Homo sapiens: one gene and its partner. The protein of the gene in region 1 purifies or fractionates together with the protein of each later gene. This does not show direct contact. Each region holds a gene or a part of one and is shown on either strand. Other genes may lie near its edges.

Region 1 (3,723 bases):
CCGACCTGGCGGGAGGTTGCCTAGCCGTGAACCTTCGCACCCTGTCTGCCACCGGACAGGCTGTGAGGGGGTGTCTGCAGCACCTGCACCGGCCTGAGCATCTTCAGAGTGGGCTGCAGCTCCTGGAGGGGTCTGAGAGGAAGGGAGGCAGGTATTTTGGGCGAATGAGGAGACAGCTGGAGAGCTGGCACCCTTCCTGGCCTGCGTCCTGTGAGGACTCTGGTTGGGGACAGCAAGCTTGGGGTCAGCCTGGGGCAGAGCCTCTGGGACGGCCCCGCCCCTCGTGCCCCTTCCCCTCGCAGCTCCTGTCCTCGCCCCGCCCTCAGCTCTCCGCCAGGCAAGGTTTGGCAAGTGCCGCTGTGCGGCAGTGCCTGCTGATTGGCTGGTCTGTTGCTATGGTGCTGCCCAGGGGTGTGCTTTTCCTCCCCTGCCTTCCCTGCTATCCCTGGGAGTATCTGGGGTTGGGTCATCGCTGGTGTGTGTGAGTGTGTGTGTGTGTGTATGTGCACGTGTGCATATGTGTGCGCTTCTGGCCTCTGCAGCTGAGTCCTGGCCCTCGGGGGGCCTGGCACCTCCTGGGGACAGGCACAAAGCAGCCATGATGGAGTCGGGAGCTGGGGGAGGCCCCATTGCCCCACGTGGCTGCCCTGTGACTCTGGGGTGCTTGTTAGAAGAGGTATCTGGTTCTGTCTGTGTTTAAGCAACTCCCTAAGGAATTCTTGTGGTTCCAGTTTGGGGGGCCTGTACTGTAGAGGCAAGGGAGGGGCAGGACATCCCCCAGACTCTGACTTCTGAAGCCTTTTCTGCCCGGGGCCTCTCCGCCAGTACAGGCAGTGTCCTTTGCCAGGGCTGCCATGCTGCAGAGGGGAGTGGGCCACTGTTTAGCCCAGGAAAACCTGGCTCTCCCTTAGCTGGAAGTTCTGGGCCTGTTGTGGTTGGCAGGGAAGCTGAGTGACGGTGCTAATCACAGGGGCACCTGCAGGGGTTTGTGGGAGATGCCTCTGTGGGTTGGGGCGATAGGCTGAGGGGCTGTTCTTCCCTGCCCTGAGGAGGGCTGAGTGTAGCCGCCACTCCTGTCCTGTCTTGGGCTGTCTCGGAGAGGATGCGTAGAACCCTCGGGATCCTGCTGGCCTCCGTCTGGTCCACCCTGAACCTCAGGCCTTCTGGGGGCAGAGGAGGATTCCCTCAGGATCACTCGGGTGGGGGCCTCTCTTGGGCACCTGAGACCCTCAGTGGGTGCTTTGTGGCGCGTTCACGGTTGGTGGGGGACGCCCAGCCCTGCCCGCCGTGTAGGAGCCGTTCTGTCCTGGGCATCCCCCTGTGGTCTGGGACTTAGTGGACCCTGAGGGTGTGTGTTTACCCCTGCCTCACACCTGCAGAAAAAAGCCTGGAGCAGGAGCTGGCCAGCCCCATCCTGGACATTGAGGACTTGGTCAAGAGCGGAAGCAAGCACAGGTGAGACCCCTCAGTGAGGCCACGACCACTGTCCTTCCATGGCCCAGCTCTCCTGTGACCTGTGGAGGCCCGGATATATTTCTTCACTTTTCTTTGTTCCTTTTTAAATTATGAAACTAACCACCATTCAGTACGAAAAAGTTTAAGCAGCTCTGAGGAAGATAGAGTAAAAAATTGTCTCCCTCTTCCCTGGCCCTCAGCCATCCCCGGTGGCCACCGTGGAGTGTGGACGGAGCCCTGCAGGCCTGTGTCTGTGCGGAAGCACGCGCAGTTTTGTCTGCACAGACTGTCCTGCAGTTGGCTGTTTTCACTCAGCGTTGTGGGTATAGCTTCCCATGCTGGTGCTGGCAGCTCGGCCTTGTTCTTTTGAGGACAGCAGATGTCTCCTATGTCTACCTCTTACAGCTTCAGAGATTCAAGTTATAATAAAGCTCTTCTTATATTGAGGGGGAAACCTCCCTCCCCCTTTTTTTTGAAACAGGGTCTCGCTCTGCTACCCAGGCTGCAGTGCAGTGTCACAGTCTTGGCTCACTGCAGCCTCAGCCTCCCAGGCTCAAGCGATTTTCCCACCTCAGCCTCCCAAGTAGCCGGGACTGCAGGCACACACCACCATGCCTGGTTAATTTTTGTATTTTTTGTACAGACAGGGTCTCACTCTGTTGCTCAGGCCAGTCTCCTGAGCTCGAGAGTTCCACCTGCCTTGGCCTCCCAAAGTGCTGGGATTACAGGCGTGAGACCCCATGCCTGGCCAGCTCTTTTTTTTTTTTTTTTTTTTTTTGAGACGGAGTCTCGCTCTGTCGCCCAGGCTGGAGTGCAGTGGTGCGATCTCGGCTCACTGCAAGCTCCGCCTCCCGAGTTCACGCCATTCTCCTGCCTCAGCCTCCCGAGTAGCTGGGACTACAGGTGCCCGCCACCACGTCTGGCTAATTTTCTGTATTTTTAGTAGAGACGGGGTTTCACCGTGTTAGCCAGGATGGTCTCGATCTTCTGACCTTGTGATCCGCCCACCTCGGCCTCCCAAAGTGCTGGGATTACAGGAGTGAGCCACCGCGCCCGGCCCAGCTCTGCTTTTTCTTAGTGGTTCTGCGTTGTGTTTGTTTCTATCCAGGAATAGGGTTGGTTTTACTTTTCCATCGAGTTTTTAAAGAGACGACGATTTACATGGTCGGAAACTCACGAGGACTCCCCATCCCTTGGTCGGAAACTCACATGGACTCCCCATCCCTTGGTCAGAAACTCACGTGGACTCCCATCCATCCCAGGCAGCAGCTTCCCACCTGGGCCCTACGTGCAGGATGAGGGCTCCTTCCGGGTCAGAAGACATGGCGGCCTCGGGGCACCGTCCCCTGCATGGGGTGCTCACAGGATCTTCTCCTCTCTCCTTCCCAGGGTGTGCCCTTACTACCTGTCCCGGAACCTGAAGCAGCAAGCCGACATCATATTCATGCCGTACAATTACTTGTTGGATGCCAAGGTGGGGGCTCAGTCCTGTAGCTGACGACTCCTGATGTCCAGGGGTGTCCCTGGGCTTGGGAACAGCTGTCCGAGCCTTTGCTGCTTCAGGGCCTTAGATCAGCAGGCCTGGGTGGGAGGACTCACCTCTGTCACTGGGCAGGGGCTCAACCTGGCCAGACACACTTGTGAGCAGCCCCAGGCCACAGGTCAGTTTTCTGAGCAGTCTGGGAGCGGGCAGGCTGGTGGGAGTGAGGAGAGACCTCCAGGCTGTGGTCCATAGGCCAGTGCCCGCTCTTGATCCTGACAGCTCAGGTTCTCTCCTTCACGTCAGGCCATGGGAGGCACCGAGAACACAGGAAGCCCACTGACTCCCCTCTTCCCAGCGCGTGCCCGGCCCCACACTCACTCCCCCTCCCAGCATGTGCCCGGCTTCACACTCACTCCCCTCTTCCCAGTGCATGCCCGGCCCCACACTCACTCCCCCCACAGCATGTGCCCGGCCTGACACTCACTCCCCTCCTCCCAGTGTGTGCCCAGCCCCACTCCCTTCCGCCCCGTGTGCCCAGCCCCACGCTCACTCCCCCCGCCAGCATGTGCCCGGCCCCACACTCAACTCCCCTCCTCCCAGTGTGTGCCCGGCCCTGCTGCCCTCCTCCCCATGTGCCCTGCTTTTGTGCCCCACACTTTTTACTTAGTGCAGGTGGGATCACACGCCACGGGTCAATGGTTTGTGTGTTCACGTGACGATGGCGTGGTGACGTTTCCAGATCCCGTCGTTGGTTCGCTCATTCTCGGGGTGTATATTTATTGAGA
Region 2 (3,723 bases), on another chromosome or scaffold:
GGGTGCATGGGTGATGAGTGACTTTTGGTGAAACTGATTGTTCTTAAATTCTGTCTCTTACTGACAGATGGTTTGTGCTTGTCGGAATCAGAAACAGTCAACAAAGAGCGAGCGAACAGTTACAAAAATCCCCGCACGCAGGACCTCACCGCCAAGCTTCGGAAAGCTGTGGAGAAGGGAGAGGAGGACACCTTTTCTGACCTTATCTGGAGCAACCCCCGGTATCTGATAGGCTCAGGAGACAACCCCACTATCGTGCAGGTAGGTCTCGGCGGTTCCCTCGGGCAGGTGTGCGGTCCCGGCCGTTCCATCGCAGCACTCGCACAGGGCGTGTCCACACATCAGATAGGAAGCTCAGAGCATGCGGTTCTCTTTCAGGAAGGGTGCAGGTACAACGTGATGCATGTTGCTGCCAAAGAGAACCAGGCTTCCATCTGCCAGCTGACTCTGGACGTCCTGGAGAACCCTGACTTCATGAGGCTGATGTACCCTGATGACGACGAGGCCATGCTGCAGAAGCGTATCCGTTACGTGGTGGACCTGTACCTCAACACCCCCGACAAGATGGTGCGTGCACACCCTCCACTCACGCTTTCTTTATTTAATTGGTTAAAAGTCTTTCCCCAAAAGAATGCTTTATCGACAAGTTACTCATTAGTATAATAACTTTGGGGAAAAGATACATCAATTACACCCCTGCAACCTGCCTTCTTACCACATCCCACTGGACAAAGGGCACCGAGCGCTGGGGTTCCCTGGCCCCTGCATTGTCGTCGTGTGTGCGATGCTGTCCCCGAGGGTGTCTGAACTGTCTGGGGACACGGTTGTCAGAGGACATTTCCTCTGCCGAACAGGACACCTTGAGCTGAGCAGCACTTCCCCTCCCGGGAGTGGCAGAGCTGTGCACACCACAGGCAGGCCCTCAGTGTCCTACCAAGAGCCACTGAGGCACAGAGCTGCCCCTGCAAACCATGCTGCCTGACACGCAGGGCTGTGGAGAGAGAGAGAGGCTGCCTGACACGCAGGGCTGTGGAGAGAGAGAGAGGCTGCCTGACACGCAGGGCTGTGGAGAGAGAGAGAGGCTGCCTGACACGCAGGGCTGTGGAGAGAGAGAGATGCTGCCTGACACGCAGGGCTGTGGTGTGAGAGAGAGGCTGCCTGACACGCAGGGCTGTGGAGAGAGAGAGGCTGCTGGGGTGCGACTGCTTAGAAACAGGAACGATCTTGGTAGCTCCGGAGAAAAGGTGACAGCAATCCTGGCCGATGCCCATGCCCCACCCTCCACCTGACCTGTGGGGTCATTTCATCTGAAGTGCAGCCAGCAGGCGGGTTGGAGTCACTGATGAGTGCCCCCCGGGCCAGGCCCATGCAAGGCAGCACTGGGAAGCGGGCACAGCTCTTCTAAAGGGTGCTAAAGACAGGCTTTTCCTTCTCTTAGCCCCTCCCACCCCTGGGAGCCCAAAAGTCCTTCAGGGCAGAGTAGGGAGCCAGGGGAGCTGCCCTGCTTGAGAAGAGAAGCAAGTTTTATACACTGGGATGGAGCGTGTTAGTGAAACCAACACCCCAACTGGAACAGGCAGTCACACAGGCCAGGTGTAAAATCCCACACAGTACTCACAGCCATTGAGCAACCCTCATTTATATGTTTATGATAAATAAAGCATGAGGTAATGTGAGGCTTGAATTTCAGCTTGAGTCCAAAGAAATAATATTCTCTCACTAGGAGGCTAAAGCTGCTTTGCCTAATTTCGATTTTTGAAAAGTCCACTGCATTAAAAAAAAATAATGAATTTGCTTTTCATTAAAGCTAGATTAGTACAACAATTGGGCAGTTGTTGATATTCAGTTTACTTTCTGTGGGCAGGAAATGGACACTTCTTGTTTAGCATTTCAAGATAAAAACTCATGGAACAGGTAGGGCTTTCTGGGTGATTGCATTCCTTCTGTGAGTTAGGGAAGGAGGAGGTCAAAAATGCCACTTATGCGTAGGACTCTTCAATGCTTCAACATTCTGATGGGCTAACCTGATTCTTTTTTTTTTTTTTTTTTTGAGACAGAGTCTTGCTCTGTCTCCCAGGTGGGAGTGCAGTGGCACAATCTCGGCTCACTGCAAGCTCCTCCTCCTGGGTTCAACTGATTCTCCTGCCTCAGCCTCCCGAGTAGCTGGGACTACAGGCACCCGCCACCATGCCTGGCTAATTTTTTTGTATTTTTAGTAGAGATGGGGTTTCACCGTGTTAGCCAGGATGGTCTCCATCTCCTGACCTCGTGATCGGCCCGCCTTGGCCTCCCAGAGTGCTGGGATTACGGGCGTGAGCCACCGTGCCTGGCCACTAACGTGATTCTTAAAGGGAGCCTGGGCTTTGGCTCAGTATTTCAAATCCTCCGCCCTGTCCACTTCCTGTACCCCTAGGAAGGACAGCACAGTTATCTGTTTCACCTACAAACTTTAGTATATAACTATGTACACAACTGTTGAAATTCATGTGGATGCGGTAGCCACGTCTCCTTGTGGATGGGCAGGACTATTCTCAAAGCCGGCTCTGCGTGTGCGTCCTGGCTGGCCGCTTTGTTGCTCAGAGCTCCGGCTGTGATGCTGAGGGTGTGTGTGTGTGCTCTGCAGCTGAGCGTAAGCGACCACAGGCTTAGAGAGGTGCGGGATCCGACGGGCTCGTCGCCCCTCCCTGCTGAGGAAGGGAGATTGTCCTTGCTGTTCTCTGTCACCCACGACCTTAGACTTCATGGGCCCAACTTGGTCTTCAAACGACTTGAAAGTTGCAAATTTCCTTACGTCTCCGAGCTTCCTACTGATGGCAGAGCCCACCATGGACAGGGCCGCTGAGGTCTCTGTCTTGGTTGAGGTCTTCTGTCTTGCTGTGGGAGCATTTCCTGAGTCTTGCAGAGATCCGGGTGGGCCACTTTCTCATTCCACTTCCACATTTCTCAGAAGTCTTCACATAGGCGTTAGAGAGGGTTCCGTTTCAGCCTCCAAGGCAGAGAGGCCCAGCCTCCTCTCAAGCTCTCCACAGTCCCCCTCCTTGGCTGCCAGCACTGGTGTAGAGTGACAGTTTCCTCATCCGTCTTGGTAGCTGGGCCCTGAGCTCTTCCTCCTCAGCCTCTGTCAGACCCTCAACAGCAGTAGCCTGGGCAGCCCCACCTGTGTCAACAGGGACATTGGTCATGGAGTTGGACGGCAGGCCTTTGTGAGGAGAATTCGGGTTGACATCTTGGCTGGCGGCGTCTGTGTTCAGGCAGTCATGGGCCGCGGTGCGGGCGCTGTGGGAGCCGAGTGATGGGCTGTGGGAGCCGAGCAGGCAGCAGCAGGGTTGCTCACTGCACGCACGCTGCCCGGGAGCTGCCTCTGCTGGCTGTTTTAATAGGAATGGTAGCCAGTATTGTAGTTTAAGAAAGATTTGTGAGGCCGGGTGCAGTGGCTCACGCCTGTAAACCCAGCACTTTGGGAGGCCGAGGCAGGCGGATCACGAGGTCAGGAGATCGAGACCATCCTGGCTAACACGGTGAAACCCCGTCTCTACTAAAAATACAAAAAATTAGCTGGGCGTGGTGGCGGGCACCTGTAGTCCCAGCTGCTGGGGAGGCTGAGGCAGGAGAATGGCGTGAACCCGGGAGGCGGAGCTTGCAGTAAGCCCATATCACGCCACTGCACTCCAGCCTGGGCGACAGAGTGAGACTCTGTCTCAAAAAAAAAGTCTATAGTGCTTA

What was found.
Region 2: the proteins of RTEL1 (region 1) and ANKLE2 purify together in Homo sapiens (affinity purification with mass spectrometry, with the first as the bait; one large-scale study listed by BioGRID). This does not show direct contact.

Annotation. Positions count from the first base shown.
Region 1 is NC_000020.11:63,664,625-63,668,347, forward strand, and holds part of RTEL1 (regulator of telomere elongation helicase 1), read left to right. Parts: intron 1-1,379; coding exon 1,380-1,455; intron 1,456-2,844; coding exon 2,845-2,929; intron 2,930-3,723. UniProt on the Homo sapiens protein: A probable ATP-dependent DNA helicase implicated in telomere-length regulation, DNA repair and the maintenance of genomic stability. Acts as an anti-recombinase to counteract toxic recombination and limit crossover during meiosis.
Region 2 is NC_000012.12:132,744,676-132,748,398, reverse strand, and holds part of ANKLE2 (ankyrin repeat and LEM domain-containing protein 2), read left to right. Parts: intron 1-67; coding exon 68-261; intron 262-378; coding exon 379-567; intron 568-3,723. UniProt on the Homo sapiens protein: Involved in mitotic nuclear envelope reassembly by promoting dephosphorylation of BAF/BANF1 during mitotic exit.